Linked DNA regions of Homo sapiens. The protein of the gene in region 1 interacts with the protein of each later gene in a biochemical or structural test. Each region holds a gene or a part of one and is shown in the gene's direction. Other genes may lie near its edges.

Region 1 (7,037 bases):
TATAGTTAGAATACTTCATTATTTTATATGATGGATGTACAATTGTTCTTATCTAATTTACCACTTTTACAGAAACAGCTGTTATACCCATTAATGGTTCACCTCGAACACCCAGGCGAGGTCAGAACAGGAGTGCACGGATAGCAAAACAACTAGAAAATGATACAAGAATTATTGAAGTTCTCTGTAAAGAACATGAATGTAATATAGATGAGGTAATTTAACTTCATGATTTCTTTAAAACAGTTAAAGTAGATTTAGATGTAAGTTCTCCCTAACAATATTTACTTCTTTTGTTATGAGCATGTTTTTTTTGTAATTAGTGCTAACTCTTTTGCAGTAGCAAAATATTTAGAAAAAATTAATTCGTTATATTTAGTTACTTTGATTTTAAAGAGAGTAGCTCCCTCACTCTGGAATCACTGAAAAGTATATAATCAAGACAATAGTTTTCAAATGTAGTTTTTTTTTTTTTTTATTCCTCTGAGGTTACTGATACCCCTAATGTTTTAAAATACCCTGCCAAGGCTGGGCATGGTGGCTCACACCTGTAATCCCAGCTCTTTGGGAGGCCGAAGTGGGAGGATTTCTTGAGGCCAGGAGGTCTAGACCAGCCTGAACAACATAGCGAGACTCTGTCTCTACAAAATACATATTTAAAAAAATGAACTGGGCATGGTGGCATGTGCCTGTAGTCCCAGCTACTTGGAAGACTGAGGCAAAAGGATTGCTTGAGCCCAGAAGTTTGAGGTTACAGTGAGACATGATTGCACCACTGCACTCCAGCCCGGGCGCCAGAGTGAGACTATGTCTCCAAAAACGAACAAACAAACCAAAAAAGCCCTGCTTAGAAAACTCTAGTGCTCTAGTGTTTTAGTTTAGTGATAAGTGATACCAACATTAAATTTCTGTTTGGCCTTCTATAATTACTCTCTTTCTAAATATTACAGCACATAATGACTGCTGGAGAATACATATGAATTCCCAGGAATTACTTGTCTTGTTCATAGAATGTGGATGTTAGAAGGAATCTTACAAATAATGTATTCAATCTCCTTTTTATAATGAGTAAACAAGCTTCCAGGGACTGATAGCTTATTATTTACAGCGTCTACATTAGACTTTGGGATATCTGGTACTATTGCTTCTTTCCTTTTTACCATACAGTTTTTCTCATAGTTTGTTTTATTGTCCACAATCACTAACACCAGATAGCAGTAAAAAATGTTACATCTTTGAAATTTCTCTGTTAACTTTGGGAAGGAGTGAGAGTGTGGTCCTAAAATCTAGTTTAAGAAGTATTAGAATGATTTATCAAGATATATCATAGTTTTTGCACTATGGCTTACTAATTTCAACAAATATACAGTTGACTCTTGAACAACAGGTTTGAATTGCATGGGTCCGTTTATACACAGATATATTTAATTACATATATTAGAAAAAATTTTGGAGATTTGCAATAATTTGAAAAAATTTGTAGCAAACCGTGTAGCCTACAAATACAGAAAAAATTAAGAAAAAGGCATGTCTTGAATGTACAAAATATATGTAGATACTAGTCTATTTTATCATTTACTATACCATAAAATACATACAAAACTGTAGCTGCAGATGCCTGCTGTTTCAGGCGGACGATTTTTGTTAACAGATGACATAAACTTACTGTAAATGTATTTTGTCTTCTTACAATTTTCCTAATATTTTCTTTTCTCTATCTTTATCATAAGAAGATGATATATTTAGTATGTATATATAGTACATATACAAAATATATGTGAATTCAATCTTTATGTTATTGGTTGGCTTCCAGTCAACAGTAGGCTGTTAGTTAAATTTTGGGTACTCAAAAGTAATCGATAGGTCTGTAGTCTCAGCTACTTGGGAGGCTGAGGTGGAAGGATGGCTTGAGCCCAAGCATTTGAAGCTGTAATGCATGTGATTGCACCTGTGAATAGCCACTACACTTCAGCCTAGGCAATATAGAGAGACCCCTTCTCTAAGAAAATAATAAAAAATAAAAAAGTTATACACAGATTTTTTACTGCATGGGGGATTGACACCTCTAACTTACCCTGCATTGTTCAAGAGTCAAGAGATTAGATTTTGTTTTAAATTTTAATGATCATGTTGTAACTTCATCTTTTTCAGGTGAAAAATGTTTATTTCAAAAATTTTATACCTTTTATGAATTCTCTTGGACTTGTAACATCTAATGGACTTCCAGAGGTAATCTGAAAGGAAATTTAATAAAATATTAATGTTTTGAGACTGTGGAGGGAGGATAATTGTCTAACTTTCTTAGATCAATTTACTGTGTATCACATTTTTTTTTTGCCCAAGAAGAATCTAGCCAAGTAGAATTGTGGTGAAACTAACTTTTGTATAGTAACAAAAAGCTTTTGAGTATATAATCAAATGTATTAGCATCATTTTGTGATTTATACTAGAAATCAATCTTTATTGAATTTTTTCCAAAATCAAAGTATAGACTTTTAAACTTCTAAATACCATTAAATAGCTAAATTTTAATAGCTAAATATAAACCATTAAATTTGCTTTGGTAAGCCTCATTAAGCGTAGGAACCATGATTAATGCCATCAACATTATTGGCATTACTACATTGTGGAACATCTCTTTTGAGGATTTTTAAGAACTGCTTAATTGAAAATACAAATGTATTTGTTGAAATGACTGTGACTATTGCAGAAGTGTTTTACCTTAGTGATATTCCATCCATCTACCTGTTTTGTTTCGCATTTTGCTACAAATGTCTTTCCAATGAGAACAGAATAACTGAGAGCTTTGCATGGTAAGACGAAATATGTGGAGAAAAGGATGCTGTGATAGATGATGAAGAACAAAACCAGTGTTTTAGAAGACATAGTATTAGTCACTATGACCAAAAGGCATGAAATAAAATAGCTAGACTGCTAGTTCTGTAACCTGAATTGATAGCTAGTTTTTGAATTAATTTATTAATTCAACAAATATTTTTTGAATGCTTAATATATGTCAGGCACGTGCTAGATACTATGGATACAGAGATTTCACTCTCAGTCACTATCCTTAAAGTGCTAGTGGGAGAGGCTGACAAAGAAATAGAGCATTACAGGAGTCTACAAGAGTGTGAAAAAAGTATTCACAGGGTTCTGTGATATCTCAAAGGAGAGCTACCTAATCCAAACTAGGGCTGATAGGTTTTGTGGAAAATAGTTTAGAGGTGATGTGATTTCAAATCTGAGTAAGCATTACAGATATAGCATTTCCAAGGGTTGGACATTGTAGATTCAAAGGTGCAGTGATGTATGATAGTATGGTCTGATCAGTGAACTCTAAGTAATTCATTAAGGTTGGGATACAGGGCAGAACAATTAAAATATGGTACTGAAGAGGCAAGAAGGGACCAAATGTTATATTAATGAGTCTTGTTACCACTTTTGGTACCAAAAACTAGGCTGTTCATAACTTTAAAATCTGTTGTAGCAATCTTTTTTTCTCCTTTAAAAGGATTATAGTTTTAATATAAATCTTAAGAGTAATTTTACTTTTTCTCCAATATTTCACATAATATAGCCAATCAATAGATGACTGGTAATTAGTGCCTCAACTAAGGTAGGACAGGAACAATGATTAAACATAAGCATGGATTACTGTTCTATCTAATACATTTATGAAGATTAATGAAAAGTTTGCATTTAATTGGATTTCTTCCTATCACTCCTTTTAAAATGCAATTTTACTTCTCTGAGGTTGGAATCACTTTGGCGTTAAAAGTCACAGTAGAAGGCATGCCAATAGTTTTCTCTTGGGCATTGGTTTTTAAAGTATAATTAAAAAATTATGGATCAGAACTGATGAAAGATTTACAAATTCTAGCAATTGAAAAAGTATCTAAGATTGGGAATAAATTGTGCAAGTGTGTTAATTGAACTGATAAATTGAGCTAATTGTCTTGCCCAAGATACTTAACTGAAGGGTACTGGAGTGAACCAAAGGGTTTAGAAAACATTGGTAGAATATGTAATCAAGAGGATTTGCAACAATGTTTGAAAAAATATTTTATATTGATAAGCATAAAAGATTAAAAGCAGGCTGGGCGCGGTGGCTCACGCCTGTAATTCTAGTACTTTGGGAGGCCGAGGCAGGTGGATCACCTGAGGTCAGGAGTTCAAGACCAGCTTGGCCAACATGGCGAAACCCCGTCTCTACTAAAAATACAAAAATTAGCCGGGCATGGTAGCAGGTACCTATAATCCCAGCTACTCGGGAGGCTGAGGCAGGAAAGTTGCTTGAACCCCGGGGGCAGAGGTGGCAGTGAGCCGAGATTGTGCCACTGCACTCCAGCCTGGGCGAAAGAGCGAAACTCCATCTCAAAAAAAAAAAAAAAAAAAAGATTAAAAGTAAAGCATATATGGGATGTTTGGAAAATCTTGGCAGTTAAACAGTTATTATAATACCTATTTTTATCTTAGGTACTGTTTTGTAGCATTGGCTATCTTTGTCTACATAAAATTCTAATAAATATTTTCTATGCACGAAATAGACCTAAAATCAAAGTTGAACAAATGTTGCAATTTTCTGTACCTCACTTTTAGATAGACCTTATTTATATTGCATGCGAACTCAGTGTATATTACAAAATTAAATGTATATTATACAAAAATTCTTTAATGAAATCTGTGCCTCTGTGTGCTGAGAGATGTAATGACATGTAAAGGATAATTGTCAGTGACTTTTTTCTTTCAAGGTTGAAAATCTTTCTAAACGATACGAAGAAATTTATCTTAAAAATAAAGATCTAGATGCAAGATTATTTTTGGATCATGATAAAACTCTTCAGACTGATTCTATAGACAGGTATTGCACATGGTATATTTGATTGATTTGCTTTAGATATAGGTTGATACTGATATAGGTAGATTATATAGTCTTTAGCTTAGTGACCTTTAGATATCATTTATAACAAATTACTTTCAAATGTCTTTATACAAAGAAAAGTTTAACAGTATTTTAAGCATATAACTTATCTACAAATATAGATTTAATGTGAATTGTGTGTCCTATAACAGTTACCTTTTTGCAGTTAACTGAATATAATTTTTTAAAATGTGCACCAAAAGATAATGGCTAAAGTAATTAGTTTCTTCAAATAGTGGTCTCTACCTTATTTCTATCCTTTCATATACTATTGCCTGCCTGGTTTATTTAAAAAAGTTTATACAAAAGTGTAGTCTCTGTTATTATCATGTAGAAACCTAAAATTGGAATGGTTGAGAGTGATTGTTAAAATTTTTGACTGATCATAAGTAAAGTTAATTTTGTGTCTTTAGCATGAACTCTTTTAATATGAAACTGAAAATATGCGTAATTTAGAAGTTAAACACAGTAAAATGTTTTAAATTTTATTTAAGTGGAAATAAAGTTTTTAGAAGGAATAATGCATTGAAAAACTTGAGTTTTAATGCTTTTTAATACTGAACAACTTGGTTATCAATACCACCAGGGAGAAAGCATCTGACTTTCACTTTTAAAAAAAGACTTAATGATTGGTATACCTCTTTGTCATAAACATAATGGAAAGAGACCCACAATTAAAAAGAGTAGTGAAAAATATTTTATTTAAGCAGCAGCTGGGTCATCTATTTTCTATCCTATCTATTATTGAGTTATCATTTTATATGATTTTATGAGACAACAGAAGCATTATACTGCTTTTTTGATGCATAAAGCACAAATTGTAAATTTTCAGTATGTGAATGACTTCACTTATTGTTATTTAGTTTTGAAACACAGAGAACACCACGAAAAAGTAACCTTGATGAAGAGGTGAATGTAATTCCTCCACACACTCCAGTTAGGTATGAATTTTCCTACTTTTAATTATATTATAATTTTGTTATTCATGGCTTTATAGTGTTTCAGATTTGTTCACGTTTCTTTATGTATTCATACATACATGTAAGAAATATATATTGAAGGCCAGGTGTGGTGGATCACACCTGTAATCCCAGCACTTTGGGAGGCCAAGGCGGGCAGATCACCTGAGGTTAGGAGTTTGAGACCGGCCTGGCCAACATGGTGAAACCCCGTCTCTACTAGAAATACAAAAATTAGCTGGGGGTGGTGGTGTGTGCCTGTAATCCCAGCTGCTCGGGAGGCTGAGGCAGGAGAATTGCTTGAACCCGGGAGGCGGAGGTTGCAGAGAGCTGAGATCGTGCCATTGCACTTCAGCCTGGGTGACAAGAGCGAAACTCCGTCTCAAAAAAAAAATGTGTATATATAATCTTTGTGTGCTGGGCATTTTACTGGTTGCTGAAGATATGGTTATTGGACCTAGTTTTGTCTGTTCTTAAAGAACATAACCTAAAATAGGAATGTGTTCCATTTCAGTAAATAAAAAAGAAAAAATTAAAGTATCACTATTTGATCTGCATGCAACCTTAAAGGATTAGAACTATTTTTTATGTCTTTTTCCTCACTCATTTCCCACATCAAAATCTGTTATCAAGGCTTGTTGAATAATCTACCTCCAAAATATTTCCTGAGTGCATCTACTTTTCTCCATTTCTGCTCTCACAACTCTTGTCCAAGACATTGTTCTCTTTCTCTTGGATTTTTTGCAGTAGCCTACTACCTGATCTTGCTCCTTCTGGTCTCATCATTGTTCCTGTCTCCTCACCATCAAAGATATTCTCCATAGAGCCCCCAGAATTTCTCCTAGAAATGTAAATCAGTTACATTCACCTTGCTGTTAAACCCACTGACTGCTTCCCATTGCAATTGGTATACAGTGCAAATTCCTTAACAATGCCTAAAAGATCTTATATGGTCTGGTTTCTGTTGCCTCTCCAACCTCATCTTGTTTTCTTTCTCACTCTGTGTTAGCCACACTTTGGCCTTCTCTGTTTCTTGGGCTTTCCAAGTTTTTTGAAAACCCTCGTACTTGATATTCCCTCTTCTTGAAATTTCCTCCTTTTCTTTCCATGGATTACCAACTGCTACTCTTCATTCAGCACAAATATTGCTTTTGAAA
Region 2 (3,856 bases), on another chromosome or scaffold:
GCCCTGCTGGAGTCAAGCCTGCGCCAGGCCCAGCAGAACATGGACCCCAAGGCCGCCGAGGAGGAGGAAGAGGAGGAGGAGGAGGTGGACCTGGCTTGCACACCCACCGACGTGCGGGACGTGGACATCTGAGGGCGCCAGGCAGGCGGGCGCCACCGCCACCCGCAGCGAGGGCGGAGCCGGCCCCAGGTGCTCCCCTGACAGTCCCTCCTCTCCGGAGCATTTTGATACCAGAAGGGAAAGCTTCATTCTCCTTGTTGTTGGTTGTTTTTTCCTTTGCTCTTTCCCCCTTCCATCTCTGACTTAAGCAAAAGAAAAAGATTACCCAAAAACTGTCTTTAAAAGAGAGAGAGAGAAAAAAAAAATAGTATTTGCATAACCCTGAGCGGTGGGGGAGGAGGGTTGTGCTACAGATGATAGAGGATTTTATACCCCAATAATCAACTCGTTTTTATATTAATGTACTTGTTTCTCTGTTGTAAGAATAGGCATTAACACAAAGGAGGCGTCTCGGGAGAGGATTAGGTTCCATCCTTTACGTGTTTAAAAAAAAGCATAAAAACATTTTAAAAACATAGAAAAATTCAGCAAACCATTTTTAAAGTAGAAGAGGGTTTTAGGTAGAAAAACATATTCTTGTGCTTTTCCTGATAAAGCACAGCTGTAGTGGGGTTCTAGGCATCTCTGTACTTTGCTTGCTCATATGCATGTAGTCACTTTATAAGTCATTGTATGTTATTATATTCCGTAGGTAGATGTGTAACCTCTTCACCTTATTCATGGCTGAAGTCACCTCTTGGTTACAGTAGCGTAGCGTGCCCGTGTGCATGTCCTTTGCGCCTGTGACCACCACCCCAACAAACCATCCAGTGACAAACCATCCAGTGGAGGTTTGTCGGGCACCAGCCAGCGTAGCAGGGTCGGGAAAGGCCACCTGTCCCACTCCTACGATACGCTACTATAAAGAGAAGACGAAATAGTGACATAATATATTCTATTTTTATACTCTTCCTATTTTTGTAGTGACCTGTTTATGAGATGCTGGTTTTCTACCCAACGGCCCTGCAGCCAGCTCACGTCCAGGTTCAACCCACAGCTACTTGGTTTGTGTTCTTCTTCATATTCTAAAACCATTCCATTTCCAAGCACTTTCAGTCCAATAGGTGTAGGAAATAGCGCTGTTTTTGTTGTGTGTGCAGGGAGGGCAGTTTTCTAATGGAATGGTTTGGGAATATCCATGTACTTGTTTGCAAGCAGGACTTTGAGGCAAGTGTGGGCCACTGTGGTGGCAGTGGAGGTGGGGTGTTTGGGAGGCTGCGTGCCAGTCAAGAAGAAAAAGGTTTGCATTCTCACATTGCCAGGATGATAAGTTCCTTTCCTTTTCTTTAAAGAAGTTGAAGTTTAGGAATCCTTTGGTGCCAACTGGTGTTTGAAAGTAGGGACCTCAGAGGTTTACCTAGAGAACAGGTGGTTTTTAAGGGTTATCTTAGATGTTTCACACCGGAAGGTTTTTAAACACTAAAATATATAATTTATAGTTAAGGCTAAAAAGTATATTTATTGCAGAGGATGTTCATAAGGCCAGTATGATTTATAAATGCAATCTCCCCTTGATTTAAACACACAGATACACACACACACACACACACACACAAACCTTCTGCCTTTGATGTTACAGATTTAATACAGTTTATTTTTAAAGATAGATCCTTTTATAGGTGAGAAAAAAACAATCTGGAAGAAAAAAACCACACAAAGACATTGATTCAGCCTGTTTGGCGTTTCCCAGAGTCATCTGATTGGACAGGCATGGGTGCAAGGAAAATTAGGGTACTCAACCTAAGTTCGGTTCCGATGAATTCTTATCCCCTGCCCCTTCCTTTAAAAAACTTAGTGACAAAATAGACAATTTGCACATCTTGGCTATGTAATTCTTGTAATTTTTATTTAGGAAGTGTTGAAGGGAGGTGGCAAGAGTGTGGAGGCTGACGTGTGAGGGAGGACAGGCGGGAGGAGGTGTGAGGAGGAGGCTCCCGAGGGGAAGGGGCGGTGCCCACACCGGGGACAGGCCGCAGCTCCATTTTCTTATTGCGCTGCTACCGTTGACTTCCAGGCACGGTTTGGAAATATTCACATCGCTTCTGTGTATCTCTTTCACATTGTTTGCTGCTATTGGAGGATCAGTTTTTTGTTTTACAATGTCATATACTGCCATGTACTAGTTTTAGTTTTCTCTTAGAACATTGTATTACAGATGCCTTTTTTGTAGTTTTTTTTTTTTTTATGTGATCAATTTTGACTTAATGTGATTACTGCTCTATTCCAAAAAGGTTGCTGTTTCACAATACCTCATGCTTCACTTAGCCATGGTGGACCCAGCGGGCAGGTTCTGCCTGCTTTGGCGGGCAGACACGCGGGCGCGATCCCACACAGGCTGGCGGGGGCCGGCCCCGAGGCCGCGTGCGTGAGAACCGCGCCGGTGTCCCCAGAGACCAGGCTGTGTCCCTCTTCTCTTCCCTGCGCCTGTGATGCTGGGCACTTCATCTGATCGGGGGCGTAGCATCATAGTAGTTTTTACAGCTGTGTTATTCTTTGCGTGTAGCTATGGAAGTTGCATAATTATTATTATTATTATTATAACAAGTGTGTCTTACGTGCCACCACGGCGTTGTACCTGTAGGACTCTCATTCGGGATGATTGGAATAGCTTCTGGAATTTGTTCAAGTTTTGGGTATGTTTAATCTGTTATGTACTAGTGTTCTGTTTGTTATTGTTTTGTTAATTACACCATAATGCTAATTTAAAGAGACTCCAAATCTCAATGAAGCCAGCTCACAGTGCTGTGTGCCCCGGTCACCTAGCAAGCTGCCGAACCAAAAGAATTTGCACCCCGCTGCGGGCCCACGTGGTTGGGGCCCTGCCCTGGCAGGGTCATCCTGTGCTCGGAGGCCATCTCGGGCACAGGCCCACCCCGCCCCACCCCTCCAGAACACGGCTCACGCTTACCTCAACCATCCTGGCTGCGGCGTCTGTCTGAACCACGCGGGGGCCTTGAGGGACGCTTTGTCTGTCGTGATGGGGCAAGGGCACAAGTCCTGGATGTTGTGTGTATCGAGAGGCCAAAGGCTGGTGGCAAGTGCACGGGGCACAGCGGAGTCTGTCCTGTGACGCGCAAGTCTGAGGGTCTGGGCGGCGGGCGGCTGGGTCTGTGCATTTCTGGTTGCACCGCGGCGCTTCCCAGCACCAACATGTAACCGGCATGTTTCCAGCAGAAGACAAAAAGACAAACATGAAAGTCTAGAAATAAAACTGGTAAAACCCCAGCGTGGTGCCTGCCTCTTTGCTTCCTGGGCTGGCCGTGAGCCAGGGACGCGTGTCCTGGTGCCCTAGAACCAGGGCAGGGTGGCAGGCTTGGCGGATGTGGGAGGCCGCAGCCTGTCCTGTGCGCTGTGGGAAGTTCAGCAGCATCCTGACCTCCATCCCCGGGATGACAGTCACGCCACCCGCCGTGACAACCAAGAATGTCTCCTGACACTGCCACATCCCCGGGGGTGGGGACAGAATCCAGCCAGGAGCAGGCACACCCCTCCCAACTGGGAGGAAGCCCTCAGCACAGGTGTGTGAGGTGGGAGGCGGTGTCCTGTCCCCGGGAGGCTCCAGAGAATAATTTGCAGGCTGCCTGGCTGGGTGAGCCCACCTCCAACCACGCGAGACAACAGCTCCGGCCTGGGTGACGTGAGCGGTGCCCATTGATGGGGAACATCTTCCCCCTCTTCCTTGCCCCACCAGTTTGTCTTCCCGGGTTATTTGCAGATAGGAAAATAAATAAAGCCGGCATTCGTTAACCCTCTTCTG
Region 3 (6,844 bases), on another chromosome or scaffold:
AAGGCGGGAGGACTGCTTGAGCTCAGGAGCCCACCCTGGGCTACATAATGAGACCCTGTCTCTACCAAAAAAAAAAAAGAATATTATGTTATCTTTTATATTTATAGGACCTGAAGTCTCCTTCCACATCCTACAAGCCTCTACCTCTCATTGAATCTGCTTTTTCTCAAGCACAAGCATCCAAGAGACAATATGTTGTACTAAATAACTTTTTTTGAGGCAGAGTCTCGCTCTGTTGCCCAGGCTGGAGTGTGGTGGTGCGATCTCAGTTCACTGCCAACCTCCATCTCTTGGGTTCAAGCGATTCTCTTGCCTCAGCCTCCCGAGTCGCTGGGATTACAGGCGCCCACCACCGCATCCGGCTAATTTTTGTATTTTCAGTAGAGACGAGGTTTCACCATGTTGGCTAGGCTGGTCTCAAACTCCTGACTTCAGGTGATCTGCCCGCCTGGACCTCCCAAAGTGCTGGGATTACAGGAGTGAGCCACCGTGCCCAGCCTATTTTTATTTTTTAAAAACTTTTTATTTTACTGTTTGGACCGAACAATGTGAATATATGAAACCATGTTTTGAATCAAGAATGGTATCTTTCGGCTGGGAGCAGGCTGGGAGATAAAAAAAAAAGAATTGTATCTTTAGGTTAGGTGTGGTGGCTCATACCTGTAATCCCAACACTTTGGGAGGCCAAGGCGGGAGGATTGCTTGGGCTCAGGAGTTCAAGACCACCCTGGGCTACAATAGTGAGACCCTGTCTCTACAAAAAAAAAAAAGTTATCTTTTATATTTATAGGACCTGAAGTCTCCTTCCACATCCTACAAGCCTCTACCTTTATTCAGTCTGCTTTTCCTCAAGCACAAGCATCCAAGAGACAATATCGTACTAAATAACTTTTTTTTTTTTTTTTTTGAGACAGAGTCTCGCTCTGTTGCCCAGGCTGGAGTACAGTAGCGCGATCTCGGCTCACTGCAACCTCCACCTCCCGGGTTCAAGCGATTCTCCAGCCTCAGCCTCCCAAGTAGCTGGGGCTACAGATGTGCGCCACCGTGTTGGCTAATTTTTTTGTATTTTTAGTAAAGATACGGTTTCACCATGTTGGCCAGCTTGGTCTCAAACTCCTGACCTCAGGTGATCTGTCCGCCTCGGCCTCCCAAAGTGCTGGGATTACAGCCGTGAGCCACTGTGCGCGCTGCTACGTAACTATCATAAACTACATTAAAAAGCATTCCAAGCTGGGCGCGGTGGCTCACGCCTGTAATCCCAGCACTTTGGGAGGCCAAGGCGGGTGGATCACCTGAGGTCAGGAGTTTGAGACCAGCCTGGTTAACACGGTGAAACCCCGTGTCTACTAAAAATACAAAAATTCGGGTGTGGTGGTATGCTCCTATAGTCCCAGCTACTCAAGAGGCTGAGACTGGAGAATCGCTTGAACCCGGGAGAAGGAGGTCGGCAGTGCACTCCACCCTGGGCAACAGAGTGAGACTTTCTCAAAAAAAAAATAAGAAAAAGAAAGAAAGATCATCCTTTCGCATTCTCCCAATATAACTGATTTAGGCAAGGGACATCAATGAATGCTAAAACCACATTGGGTGCAAGGTCAATGGGGAAAAGAATATTCACAATTTATTCTGCAGAAGGATGGGCTCAGTACCAAAAGACTGAAAAAAAAAAAAGAATATTCACACAATCTCTAAGTACCTGTGGATTACTTAGTAATTACACAGGGTTGTACCTTTGTGATGGAGCAATCTGGTGGTGACTACTTTATCAAGGTGATGAAATTTAGCATCACCAATACTAGGACAACACTGTATTTGACAGTGTACCTTCTGATGGCTGATAAAATATTTAACCTGGGCCGGGCGCGGAGGCTCACTCCTGTAATTTCCAGCACTTGAGGCGGGCGGATCACGAGGTCAGGAGTTTGAGATCAGTGTGGCCAATATGGTGAAACCCCGGCTCTACTAATCATACAAAAATTAGCCAGGGGTGGTGGCGCCGAGATCGCACCACAGCACTTTATCCTGGGAGACAGAGCAAGAGACTCCGTCTCAAAAAAAGAAAAAAAAAAAAAGGCCGGGCGTGTGGTGGCTCACGCCTGTAATCCCAGCATTTTGGGAGGCCGAGGTGGGCGGATCACGAGGTCAGGAAATCAAGACCATCCTGGCTAACACAGTGAAACCCCGTCTCCACCAAAAATACAAAAATTAGCCGGGCTTGGTGGCGGGCGCCTGTAGTCCCAGATACTTGGGAGGCTGAAGCAGGAGAATGGTGTGAACCCAGGAGGTGGAGCTTGCAATGAGCCGAGATAGCACCACTGCACTCCACCCTGGGCAACAGAGCGAGACTACGTCTCAAAAAAAAAAAGGAAACAAGAGAAATTCGGATCATGGAATGTTTTCAAGACAACTTGCCTGGATTCTTCCAAATATTTAGTGTCATGAAAAACAAACAAGAAGGCAGGTGATTCTGGACTAAAGGAAGATGACCAAATACAATGCATGAAACGTGAATGGATCCTAGTATTGGAAAAAAGGGAGAATGAGGAAGAGTGCTATGATGTGGTAAAGAAATTATTTCAGTCTATATTATCATAATATGTGAAAAAAGCAAGGTGAAAGCCGGGGTGTTGGCTCATGGCTGCAATCCCAGCACTTTGGGAGGCTGAAACGGGCAGATTGCTTGAGCCCAGGAGTCTGAGACCAGCCTGTGCAACATGACGAAACCCCGTAAAATGTTCCAACTAGGACAACTGGGGAAATTTAAGTGCGGACTCTTCCTTAAATAATATTGACTTACTTCCTAAAGTTGTGATAAAGGTACTTTGGTTCCATAGTTAAGATGCTTATTTTTAGGAGTGAAGAACAAGATGCCCATAAATGGTTTAGAAAAACAAAAATCCTAGCAAAATGTTAACCATTGTGAGTCTAGGTGAGGGGTCAGCTGTTCATTTTACTAAACTTTCACATTTTCCGAAATAAAACGTTGGGGGAACAAGTATTTTTTTTGAGGCGGGCTGGAGTGCAGTGGCCCGATCACAGGTCACTGCAGACTCCAACTCCTGGCTCCCACCTCAGACCCCCCAACAGCTGGGACTACAGGCACTGGCCACCACATCTGGCTAATTTTTTTGATTTTGTGTATGGATGGAGTCTCGCTTTCTTGTCCAGGCTGGCCTCATACTCGTGGGCTCAAGCGATCCTCCCACCTCGGCCTCTCAAAGTGCTGGAATTACAGGCGTAAGCCACCGCGTCCGGTCAAAAAATCAATTTCTAGGGAAAAATGTCAACTCAAAACAAGTAACCTGCATAGCTCGGGAATGCCTGTATAATTTACGTCAAGTCTCTCCTTGGGACGGACCGGTGAAATTGCACGCAGCACAAAGACCGGCTCTTACCCTTACTTCCGGGTATTGTGGTACAGGAACCCGAGGTTGCCTGCGCGTAAGCCACGTGACTCGAGCAGCTCCTTCTGATTGGAGGAAGAGCCACTGCTCTAATTCGGTGCCGTGAGAAAGCTCGCGCGCGGAGCAGTGGGAGCGGGCGGGACTGAATATTTTCTTTGACCAACCGCTTTCCACATATCCATCCTCCTGATCCCGTAGCGTCGAATCAAAAGCCGTTAGTAAAGTAGTTACTTCTTTCTCTTAGGATAGCCGGTCTTTCCGGGTTTTCCCCCCCTTCCCCCTCCCCTCTCCCCACTTCCCCCTCCCTTTCCCCTCTGTTTTGAGCTTCCGGTAGAGGCTGGTAGGGTAAGGGAGCTCAGTAAGTCACTTCTGGGCGACTGTTGTTTTATTTCCGGTCTATGGGACCCGGCTGCGATTTGCTGCTGCGGACAGCAGCTACCATCACTGCTGCCGCCATCATGTCAGACACGGACAGCGACGAAGATTCCGCTGGAGGCGGCCCATTTTCTTTAGCGGGTTTCCTTTTCGGCAACATCAATGGAGCCGGGCAGCTGGAGGGGGAAAGCGTCTTGGATGATGTGAGGGGGTGGGCGTGGGGGTAGGGCTCGGGGGGTGGGGCTAAGCAGAGGAAGGAGGTGCGGGGAGGAAAGGAGAGGGTGCTCAGGCAGCGAGAACAGGGCGCAGCTAACGCCGGGGAGGAGGATCCCGTCCTCATGGGTGCGGGAGCAACGTGGCGTGGGAGTGATCGTTCTGGGGGAGAGTGGGCAGAAGAGAGCGCGAGGCGAGCCCGGGGCCAGGGGCGCAGGGAATAGTGGCTTTGGAGCTAGCGCTCTGCCGACCAGACAGTAGGACACATGCTGGTTTCGCCTACTGAGATGGCTTCCCACCCGTAACCTGCTTGGAGATTCTTGACACTGCCTGCCCCTCTGACATCGCTGCCCTGAGATGGCTCTATAGAGCCAGAGGACTGGACAGGACCTGCCTCCCGCTCGTTTGGTTCCGGCCTCAGGCTTAGGACAATGGGGTGTTCCTAGCACCCGAGCGGGCCTCCTGGTCACAGTGCGCCTTTTAGGTGGCTCTCCCAGCGTCTTCACTGACTTTCGTGAAATAGTGTCCTGCGCCCTAGTGAAACTACCCTGCCTTCACTTAGGCCCGTTTTCTTGAGGAGTGAAGCTGTCGGCCGCTGTGGCCCCTCCTGTGCCGCAGGCGCATGCGAAACAGGGACCGAACGAGCCCCGCCTCGACGCCTCCAATCCCACTGATCCCCCTGCCTCGGCCCTCGTTCCGAGAACGACCGTTCCATTCATTCAGTCTTGGCAGTAGTTATTTGATTCGTCTTCTCTTGTAGTATACTTTAAAGTGTGGGCGATGCAGTTGGCTGTGGTGCTTTAATAAAGATCTGATCGATGCGGAGTTTGGTAGATGTATATTACAGTTCTCGAACGTGTTGCTTGTTTTGGCACACTGCACAGTCATTTTTCATGTGGATTTGTGACTTTGTCGTGGACCAGGGAAATAAGTCCTGTGGTGTGGGAGTCGTAGGTTTAGTTGTTATCTTCGACTCGTGCTGTCCCTTTTTCAGGAATGTAAGAAGCACTTGGCAGGCTTGGGGGCTTTGGGGCTGGGCAGCCTGATCACTGAACTCACGGCAAATGAAGAATTGACCGGGACTGACGGTGCCTTGGTAAATGATGAAGGTGAAGTCTGGGTTGTGGGGAGTAGGCGGGGGAGGAGGCTAGCCACCTACTATGTATGTACTTTTTTGTGTGTGTAAGACGGAGTTTCGCTCTGTCTCCGAGGTTGGAGTGCAGTGGGGCGATCTGGGCTGACTGCAGCCTCCGCCACCCGGGTTCAAGCATTTCTCCTGTCTCAGCCTCCTGAGTAGCTGGGACTACAGGCACGCACCACCACGCCCGGCTAATTTTTGTATTTTTAGTAGAGACAGGGTTTCATCATATTGGTCAGACTGGTCTTGAACTCCTGGCCTGAGGTGATCCGTCTGGCTTGGCCTTCCAAAGTGCTGGGATTACAGGCGTGAGCCACCGCATCCAGCCTGTACATGTACTTTTAAATGGGAATTATCTGAGGGAGTGAGGGTCGCTTACTGTTGTTGCGATTCTCCCTGCTTTTTTCATAGGGTGGGTTAGGAGTACAGAAGATGCTGTGGACTATTCAGACATCAATGAGGTGGCAGAAGATGAAAGCCGAAGATACCAGCAGACGATGGGGAGCTTGCAGCCCCTTTGCCACTCAGGTGATTCTTTGGTGTATTGGCTTGAACATTCCAGTGCATTATCCTGCTGTATAGTCCAGTTTGGGCTCTGGTTTCTATACCCGCTGTCTGCCATTGTTTCTGCTCTCTATGCCTTTGCTTTGGCTCCTCCACTCCCTTTGTCAGGTCAGTTCCAAGTAGCTGCTATCTTTTTTTGTGTTCTGGCCAGTCTTAACCGTATTCATGTGGTTATTCCTCACACTGTTCAGTCATGAATTCTTAGTTAATGACAAGTAGCTTTCTTGTCACCTGGTATTTGAATACCTACAGGGTTTGTGAGATACACTTCAAAGTTGGAAACTATGAAACAAATTCAGTTTTTGCCCTTAAGGAATGGATAGTTCAAGAAGGATACAACGTCATACATAAGCAATGAACTAAGGCAGGACGTGGTGGCTCACCAGATTACCTGAGGTCGGGAGCTTGAGACAGCCTGACCAATATGGAGAAATCCCGTTTACTAAAAATAAAAAATTAGCCAGGCGTGGTGGCGCATGACTGTAATCCCAGGTACTCGGGAGGCTGAGGCAGGAGAATTGCTTCAAACCGGCAGGTGGAGGTTGCAGTGAGCCGAGATCGTGCCACTGCACTCCAGCCTGGGCAGCAAGAGTGAGACACTCCGTCTCAAAAAAAAAAAAAAAAACCCAATATAAAACAACTGTTTTTTTTTTTTTTTCCGAGACGGAGTGTCTCACTTTCTTGCCCAGGTTGGAGTGCGGTGACACGATCTCGGCTCACTGCAATCTCCACCTCCCGGTTTGAAGCAATTCTCCTGCCTGAGCCTCCCAAGTAGCTGGGACTACAGGGGCCCGCCACCAAGCCCGGCTATTTTTTTGTATTTTTAGTAGAGACAGGGTTTCACCGTGTTAGCCAGGATGGTCTCGATCTCCTGACCTCGTGATCCGCCTGCCTCGGCTTCCCAAAGTGCTGGGATTACAGGCGTGAGCCACCACGCCCGGCCACATCTGGCCAATTTTTTTGTATTTTTAGTAGAGAAGGGGTTTCACCATGTTGGCCAGATTGGTTTCGAACTCCTTACCTCAAGTGACCCTGCTCCCCTCGGTCTCCATAAGTGTTAGGATTACAGGTGTGAGCCACCGCACCCTGCCTAAAACAATGAACTTGATACCTGCTTGCAAATATGTTTTTTTCCTCTCTGGTATAGGGT
Region 4 (7,037 bases), on another chromosome or scaffold:
TGGCTTGGGAGAGCCCACTTTTAGCCACTGGATGCTCTACTGATGTCTCTTTTGGAATTCACTGTGATTTTCAAAATGGTATCTCCAGAAACTCCTCCAATTAATCCCTGAAATGTAAGGGTAGTCTCTTTTTCTTTTCTAGAAACCTGATCCTGGCAAAATGATTAGCTTTAACAGTAGGATTAATTTTTTTTAAATGTATATAAAAATACTTGTATGTAAGAAATCCTAAAAGGGTATTTAGTGAAAAGTAATTCCCTCTCCTATTCATTTTCCCCACCTAGAGGCAATCACCCTGGAGTTTTATGTGTGTCCTTCTAGAAATACTGTGTGCACATATAAGCATTTATTATAACATGTGAATTTTGCTCTCCAGCTTTTTGTGAATATGCATGTTTATAGCAGTATCTATTCACCAGGACCGCATTTAGCTTTGCAATATTCGGTCTACTTTGAACACTGAATTTTCTGATTATTTCTTTCCCCTGGAGACGTCAAAGAAAACATGAACACTAGCCTTTTGAATTCAGGGTTTTCTTTTCATTTTATTTTCATTTGTTCATGTGTTTGTATTTACATACATTGTGCCTGAATATTGTACATGTATGTGACAGTTGTGTACTGTAGAATCAAAAACTAATGTCTGTGAACTGAACTCTTCTTGAACTTTTTGTTGTTGTTGTTATTGTTGCTTTTGGAGATAGGGTCTTGCTCTGTCACCCAGGCTGGACTGCAGTGGCACAATCACAGCTCACTGCAGCCTTGAGCTCCTGGTCTCAAGCAACCCTCCCACCTCAGCCTCCCAAGTAGCTGGGGCTGCAGGCATATGCTACCTGACTAATTAAAATTTTTTTTTTTTTTTTGTAGAGACAGGGTCTCACTATTTTTACTAGTTTGCCCGGGCCAAGCCAGTGTTGAACTACTGGCCTCAAGTGATCCTCCCACCTTGGCCTCCCCAAAGTGCATCCCTACAGGCATGAGCCACTGCACTCAGCCTGAACTTTCGAAATTTATTTTAAGGGCCCACTTTTAAATGCTTCTTTTCAGCAGCTAACTTTCCAGCGGATGCTTCATGTGGTGCCAGCCATACAGATACGCTTTTAGAACTTGAGCTTTGGAGAAGCTTATGCTTGCTTTCTGCTCTCTCCTGAGGTCATCAGATACTTCCCTTGTTCAGTAACAAAGAAAGTGAGACTCTTTCTGTTACCTAATAAAAGGCCAGTCTGTCCATTTCATTTTGGGTGCTATTAACATTGTTGACCATTTACAATGTCACAGGCCCTGGCACTGAGCACATCATGTGCAGCCTCACTTAATTTTCACACCAGTGCCCTGAGGTTTCTAGAAAAGAGGAAGGGCCCCAGTTTAGGTGGCAGTACTTTTCAATTTGGAGGCAGGAGATCCCAGTTTTCCTCTGACCTCTCTGAGCTTCCGTGTTTTTACCTCTAAGACAGAGAGACCAATCTCTGTTCAGCCACCTTAGAGGATTGTTTTGAGGGTCTATAAGATGATTGAGGGAAAGCTCTGAAACTGGTAAGAGTTAAATGTATGTTTGTGTTATGTTGATACGAGATTCCTCTGAGATGCTCTTTAGTCCAGGCAGGTTTATGGCTCACACAGCGTTCCTAGGGTCTCATTCTTCTGCACAGGCAGGCAGCTCCCGAGCCAGCCAGTCTGGACCCAAATGCCACCTGTGCTCTTGGCTGGTCTTGCGCATTCACCGAGGCTCACTGTACCTTGGTGTTCCCATTTCTAAAATAAGGCCTGTAGTAATCCCTACCTCACTGAGTTGTTGAGAGACTTCATGTAAATTGTTTAGCAGGGAGCCTGGCACAGAACAAGAGCCTAGCAGAAAAGTAAGCTGTTGTTACTTTAAGCAAATATTTAGCAGCCTAAAATGGTGGCTTTACCAGTTTCTGTAATGGTTGAAGTGATGACAGAATTCAGCCAATCCCACCCATAGTTTTTCTTGCTAATAAAGCAGTTTGTTTCTAAGTGTGTTTTGATGCGTATAATTAATACTTCCTGTCCTTGATTTTTGGCTGAAAAATGTCTTCTCTTCCTCGCACCCTCTGTTATTCCCGTAGTGAATATTTTCATTGTGGAAGAGAAATTCCCATTGGCTCATGGTTGGCATTTTATTTCTCCTGTCCAGAGACAATATTTCCACAGCCTCAAACGTGAAAACTGAAAATCTGGTGCCACTTACCACCTTGTAAAATCAAGTCATTGTAATTGTGCCAGTATAATCATTGATCTGAAATAAAAGCAGAAAATAAATCAATGGGTAGCTTTCTTAAATACATAAGAACTAAAGATCAAATGGGATATTGGAAGACTTTAACTTTTCCTCCATAATGGTGGATCTTAATTAAACACACAGAAGAACAATTTATAAAATAAATTCATAGGTTTGTTTGTTCTTTTTTAGTGTCAATTTTTAAAACTATCTCTTTTTTAATTAAAAAAAATAGAGATGGGTCTCACTATGTCGCCCAGGCTGGTCTCAAACTCCTGGGCTCAAGCAATCCTCCCACCTCAGCCTCCCAAAGTGCTGGGATTACAGGCATGAGCCACTGCACCCAGCCTAAAACTGTCTCAAAAGTAGACAGCATAATGAACTCCCATGTACTTATGATGTGGCTTTAACAATTATCAGCTTATAGTCAGTCTTGTTTTCTTACATAATAAAGTTACAGTTTCAAAGCCATTAGGAAGAATAGCTTGCTAATTATAATTACTTAGTTTTGATAGTGTAACTTTGTCCTCAGATGGGTAGAATCGTTACTCTGGAACAGGGGTGTCCAATCTTGGCTTCCCTGGGCCACATTGGGAGAAAAATTGTCTTGGGCCACACGTAAAACATACTAACGATAGCTGATGAGCTAAACCAACAAAACAAATCCCACAAAAATCTCATTTCTTTTTTTTTTTGAGACAAGAGTCTCACTCTGTCGCCCAGACTGGAGTGCAGTTGCACGATCTCAGCTCACTGCAAGCTCCGCCTCCTGGGTTCACGCCATTCTCCTGCCTCAGCCTCCCTAGTAGAGGGTACTACAGGCGCCCGGGGGTTTCACCATGTTAGCCAGGATGGTCTCCATCTCCTGACCTCGTGATCCGCCCACCTCGGCCTCCCAAAGCCCTGGGATTACAGGCGTGAGCCACTGCACCGGGCCAAAAATCTTATAATGTTTTTAAGAAAGTTTGCAAATTTGTTAGGCCACATTCAAAGCCGTCCTGGGCCATATGCAGCCCGTGGGCCATGGGTTGAACAAGCTTGCTCTAGAAATTGGTTTTCAGGCCGGGCGCGGTGGCTGACGCCTGTAATCCCAGCACTTTGGGAGGCCGAGGCAGGTGGTCACCTGAGGTCAGGAGTTCGAGACCAGCCTGGCCAACATGCTGAAACCCTGTCTCTACTAAAAATATAAAAAATTAGCCAGGCGTAGTGGGGAGTGCCTGTAATCCCAGCTACTCAGGAGGCTAAGGCAGGAGAATTACTTGAACCTGGGAGGCAGAGGTTGCAGTGAGCCGCGATCTCACCATTGTACTCCAGCCTGGGCAACGAGCAAAAACTCCAGCTCAAAAAAAAAAGTTGGTTTTCAAATCCTTCTTTCTTTACCATGTTACACCATAAATATTTTTGTTATATTGCGTGTGTTGAGTACTGGTGATAGGGAAGACAGAGAGAAATAGGTGGGAAGGAGATAGAGAGAGAGAGAGGGAGGGAGGAAGGGGAGACATAAGGGGGAAATCTATAGAGACAGAGACTGAGAGACAAATACAAAAAGGTTGAGACAGGAAAGGGAAAAAAAAACAAGCTGGGAGGGAAGGAAGACTGAGAGAAGGGAGACAAAGAGGAATAGGATGGCCAGTGGGGCTGGGGTGGGTGGGTACAGAGAGAGAATGAGTGAGAGCAAGAGAAGCGCAGGAGACAGATGATGGACAGGCAGCTGATGTATGGATGGGTAGCTGGAGAGAGAGGCCATCAGTAACTTCACATCTCTCTGTTTCCATTTCCTGCCCTCAAATGCCTTCATAATAGAGTCTACGTAATAAGGTTATAGGGATTCAGTGCAGATGAAGTGCTGGCACTTGATACGGGATCAGTAAGTATTAGCTATTATTCTATCACATTAAGTTGCATAAACTTTAACCTCATTACTCTTAAATTCTCTATAGAAACCTAGTCTTTATCTGTCTTACAAGCCCTCAAATTTAGCTAATAGCGTTGTTCATTGAATACCTTAAAATTGTATTTAAAGACAGGCCGTGAATACAATTAGGCATTGCTTTTTGAAGCCAAAATACCATGAGGGTGGGGAGGGTCATGTTCATTTACCCAGATCAGCAATAAAAATACTAATGGCTAACAAGGCTTTCTGGGGAAATTGCCTGTCATTGGGTAGCCCAGTGCCTCTGGTGTCAGCTGACCCCGGAGTCCATGAAGACATGTTAAAAGAAGAGGAAATGTGAATGCTTTCAAACCAGCCATGGCTGGCAGCAGAAGGGGAGGCCTTTCAGTCTGTTGCAAATGGCCTGTGACAATAAAAATGCCTTTGTGGGTATTAGCAGGCTGACTGTGGACAGTCTGGATCTGCGGCCACTGCAGGGATTCCTGGAACCTGTTGGGAAGGTGTCCGGCGAGCTCACTGTGGTGTCTGTTAGGAATCTGGAGCAAATCCTATTTCTTTTGAAAGCACAGAGAACTGTGTTTTTACATTATACCTTTAGGATTTTGGCCATGGTTTATATTTCAGTCAAAACAAATCATTATGTTCCCTAGGCTTTTATATAGGTTTTCCTGGTCAGGTTGCATTTGTTTTTCAACTTTACTATCTGTCATTATTGCTGCTCTTATTACAGGTTAACAGATTATTAAACTGCACTTTTCAGTACCTTGTAGCTAAAGACAGACAAGTGCAGGGTGTTCCACATCTGAGTTCACCCAGCAGTGCTGTGTTGTTGCGTTGCACTGAGCAGGCACAGAAGGCTCTGAGATATGAGAGACTTGGTCTCTACCCCAGAGGAGTTTACATTGTTGTGGTGGCAGAAGAGAAGGCGTGGCATAAGAGAAGACGCGGTTGTTCTGTAGTGAGCATCCCAGTGTCAGGTGCCACAGTTGGCATCCATGCAGAAATTCTCTGCATGCAGGATTCATTGAGCCCTCCCGACAGCCCAACTAGGTTGATGCCATGCCGTTGTTGCCCTGTTGTGCAGTTGAGAAACTGAGGCTCAGAAACAAATGTCTTCAAGACATGCTGGTGCTGAGGTTTGAACAAGGCCTGTCCACCCAGAGCCCATGCTTTTTGTACTGCTGGGGACATGTGAACAGATTGCTTACTGGGTGATAGATGCAGGGTGGTGATAGAGACAGACACCAGGTACCCAAATGGGTTAAAGGAGAAGCATCCTGTTGTGGGCGAGGTGATGGGGAGGAGGAAGGACCGGTTAGAGAAGGTTTATGGGAGATGGGGAGGCCAGGAAGAGCAGAAGAGGCTGGGGAACGAACTCTAGGGAGAGTAAATGGCACTTGTCACAGTGCAGTCAGGAGAGGCAAGCAACAGGAGGCCTGGGGGATCTGAAAGGAGTTTGGAGAGGCTGGAATGGAAAGCAGGAGTAGAGGGCCAGATGCTCCCAGTCTCAACCCTGAAGAGCCTGGCATGCCTGCTTCAGGAGCTCAGACTTTTACTATAGTGGTGGAAGGAATAACAACCCCAGCCATTTTTTGAGGGCCTGTGCATGCCTAGGCCCTCAAAAACATGTCCCATGTTAGCTGCAAACTGCCAGCTACCCTGCAAAGCACATCATGATCCCAGCATTGCCCCCGATGACACTGCCAGTAAGTGGTAGCTGACCATTGGGAGACAGGGCCACCTCCCAAGCCCATGCTCTCTTCTGCCTCTCGGCTGGCAGCCATCTCTAAGGGATTTGAAGCAAGAGAGTGACCTGGTCAGGTCTGCATTTGAGAAAGATGGCCCTGATAGTAGGGAGTGGAGGTGGAATGGCCAAAGGGGGACCCAGCCAAGGGCGTGGTAGAGCATGGAAAGGACAGAAGTGATGAGAGATTGAGGAGGAAAAGTGCCAAGATGCAGGGTGGGAACTGACAGAGGATGACTTCCAGCCTCAGTCCTGATATGGGCGTCAATGGCAGGTGTTCAGAATGGCCTTGAAGATAGTGGCATCTCTATTTATGAGTGTCTTTGTACTCCATTTCCAGTAATTGGAGACTTTTTCACCGTAGATTCTTGGAAGGTGACACAATTTTTTTTTTTTCCTTTTTGGTTGAGGGAGGGGGACAGGGACTGTGTATCTTCAGAAAGGTTAATATTTGAGGCCAAGGCAGGCAGATCACTTGAGGTCAGGAGTTCAAGACCAGCCTGGCCAACATGGTGAAACCCCGTCTTTACTAAAGATATAAAAATTAGCTGGGCATGGTGGTAGGCGCCTGTAATCCTAGCTACTCAGGAGGTTGAGGCAGGAGACTCACTTGAACCCGGGAGGCGGAGGTTGAAGTGAGCCAAGATCGCGCCACCGCACTCCAGCCTGAATGACAAGAGTGAAACTCGGTTTCCCCACCAAACAAAAAAAGAAATACCTAGTTTCTACCAGAGACAGTCACAGGCACTGTACTTCTACTCTGGTTTGTTACCTGTGTTCTTAAAAAAATTAAATGCTACATTTTAGTAAGAGGTTAGTGAAATAAAATTTTAATTTTTCCCATCAGAGGACATGGAGCCCTTGAATTCTATCCCAGACTCCCAGGGTCTTCCAGGTTAACAAGTCCTGCACTAAGGAATTGGCTCAGTAAAACCTCAGCATTCTCACAGGAAGAGCCTAAAAAGGAGACTGGGATAAATTAGTGAGAGGTCCAAATTATGCAATTTTCTTTTAAAATAAATGCAGTTTTATTACTTTCCACTTGTAGCCATTATAGGCAGTAGATTAAATGAGTTTCTAGAGAAACCTCCTTTAAAAATAAAGTTATTTAATTAGTCCAAGGTTTAAATATTTCCCCTGGAATCTTTTACATGACAATG

Evidence for each region.
Region 2: of the proteins of RB1 (region 1) and CCND1, one has a biochemical effect on the other in vitro, tested with the Homo sapiens proteins (15 studies listed by BioGRID, with this or other methods).
Region 3: the proteins of RB1 (region 1) and TAF1 form a complex in vitro, tested with the Homo sapiens proteins (4 studies listed by BioGRID).
Region 4: the proteins of RB1 (region 1) and ABL1 form a complex in vitro, tested with the Homo sapiens proteins (3 studies listed by BioGRID).

Annotation. Positions count from the first base shown.
Region 1 is NC_000013.11:48,362,743-48,369,779, forward strand, and holds part of RB1 (retinoblastoma-associated protein), read left to right. Parts: intron 1-72; coding exon 73-215; intron 216-445; exon of another isoform or gene 446-2,151; coding exon 2,152-2,229; exon of another isoform or gene 2,230-2,234; intron 2,235-4,751; coding exon 4,752-4,861; intron 4,862-5,784; coding exon 5,785-5,862; intron 5,863-7,037. UniProt on the Homo sapiens protein: Tumor suppressor that is a key regulator of the G1/S transition of the cell cycle. The hypophosphorylated form binds transcription regulators of the E2F family, preventing transcription of E2F-responsive genes.
Region 2 is NC_000011.10:69,651,151-69,655,006, forward strand, and holds the end of CCND1 (G1/S-specific cyclin-D1), read left to right. Parts: coding exon 1-132; 3' UTR 133-3,324; downstream 3,325-3,856. UniProt on the Homo sapiens protein: Regulatory component of the cyclin D1-CDK4 (DC) complex that phosphorylates and inhibits members of the retinoblastoma (RB) protein family including RB1 and regulates the cell-cycle during G(1)/S transition.
Region 3 is NC_000023.11:71,362,513-71,369,356, forward strand, and holds the start of TAF1 (transcription initiation factor TFIID subunit 1), read left to right. Parts: upstream 1-3,844; 5' UTR 3,845-3,862; coding exon 3,863-3,982; intron 3,983-4,037; exon of another isoform or gene 4,038-4,986; coding exon 4,987-5,101; intron 5,102-5,541; coding exon 5,542-5,658; intron 5,659-6,844. UniProt on the Homo sapiens protein: The TFIID basal transcription factor complex plays a major role in the initiation of RNA polymerase II (Pol II)-dependent transcription.
Region 4 is NC_000009.12:130,838,231-130,845,267, forward strand, and holds part of ABL1 (tyrosine-protein kinase ABL1), read left to right. Parts: intron 1-7,037. UniProt on the Homo sapiens protein: Non-receptor tyrosine-protein kinase that plays a role in many key processes linked to cell growth and survival such as cytoskeleton remodeling in response to extracellular stimuli, cell motility and adhesion, receptor endocytosis, autophagy, DNA damage response and apoptosis.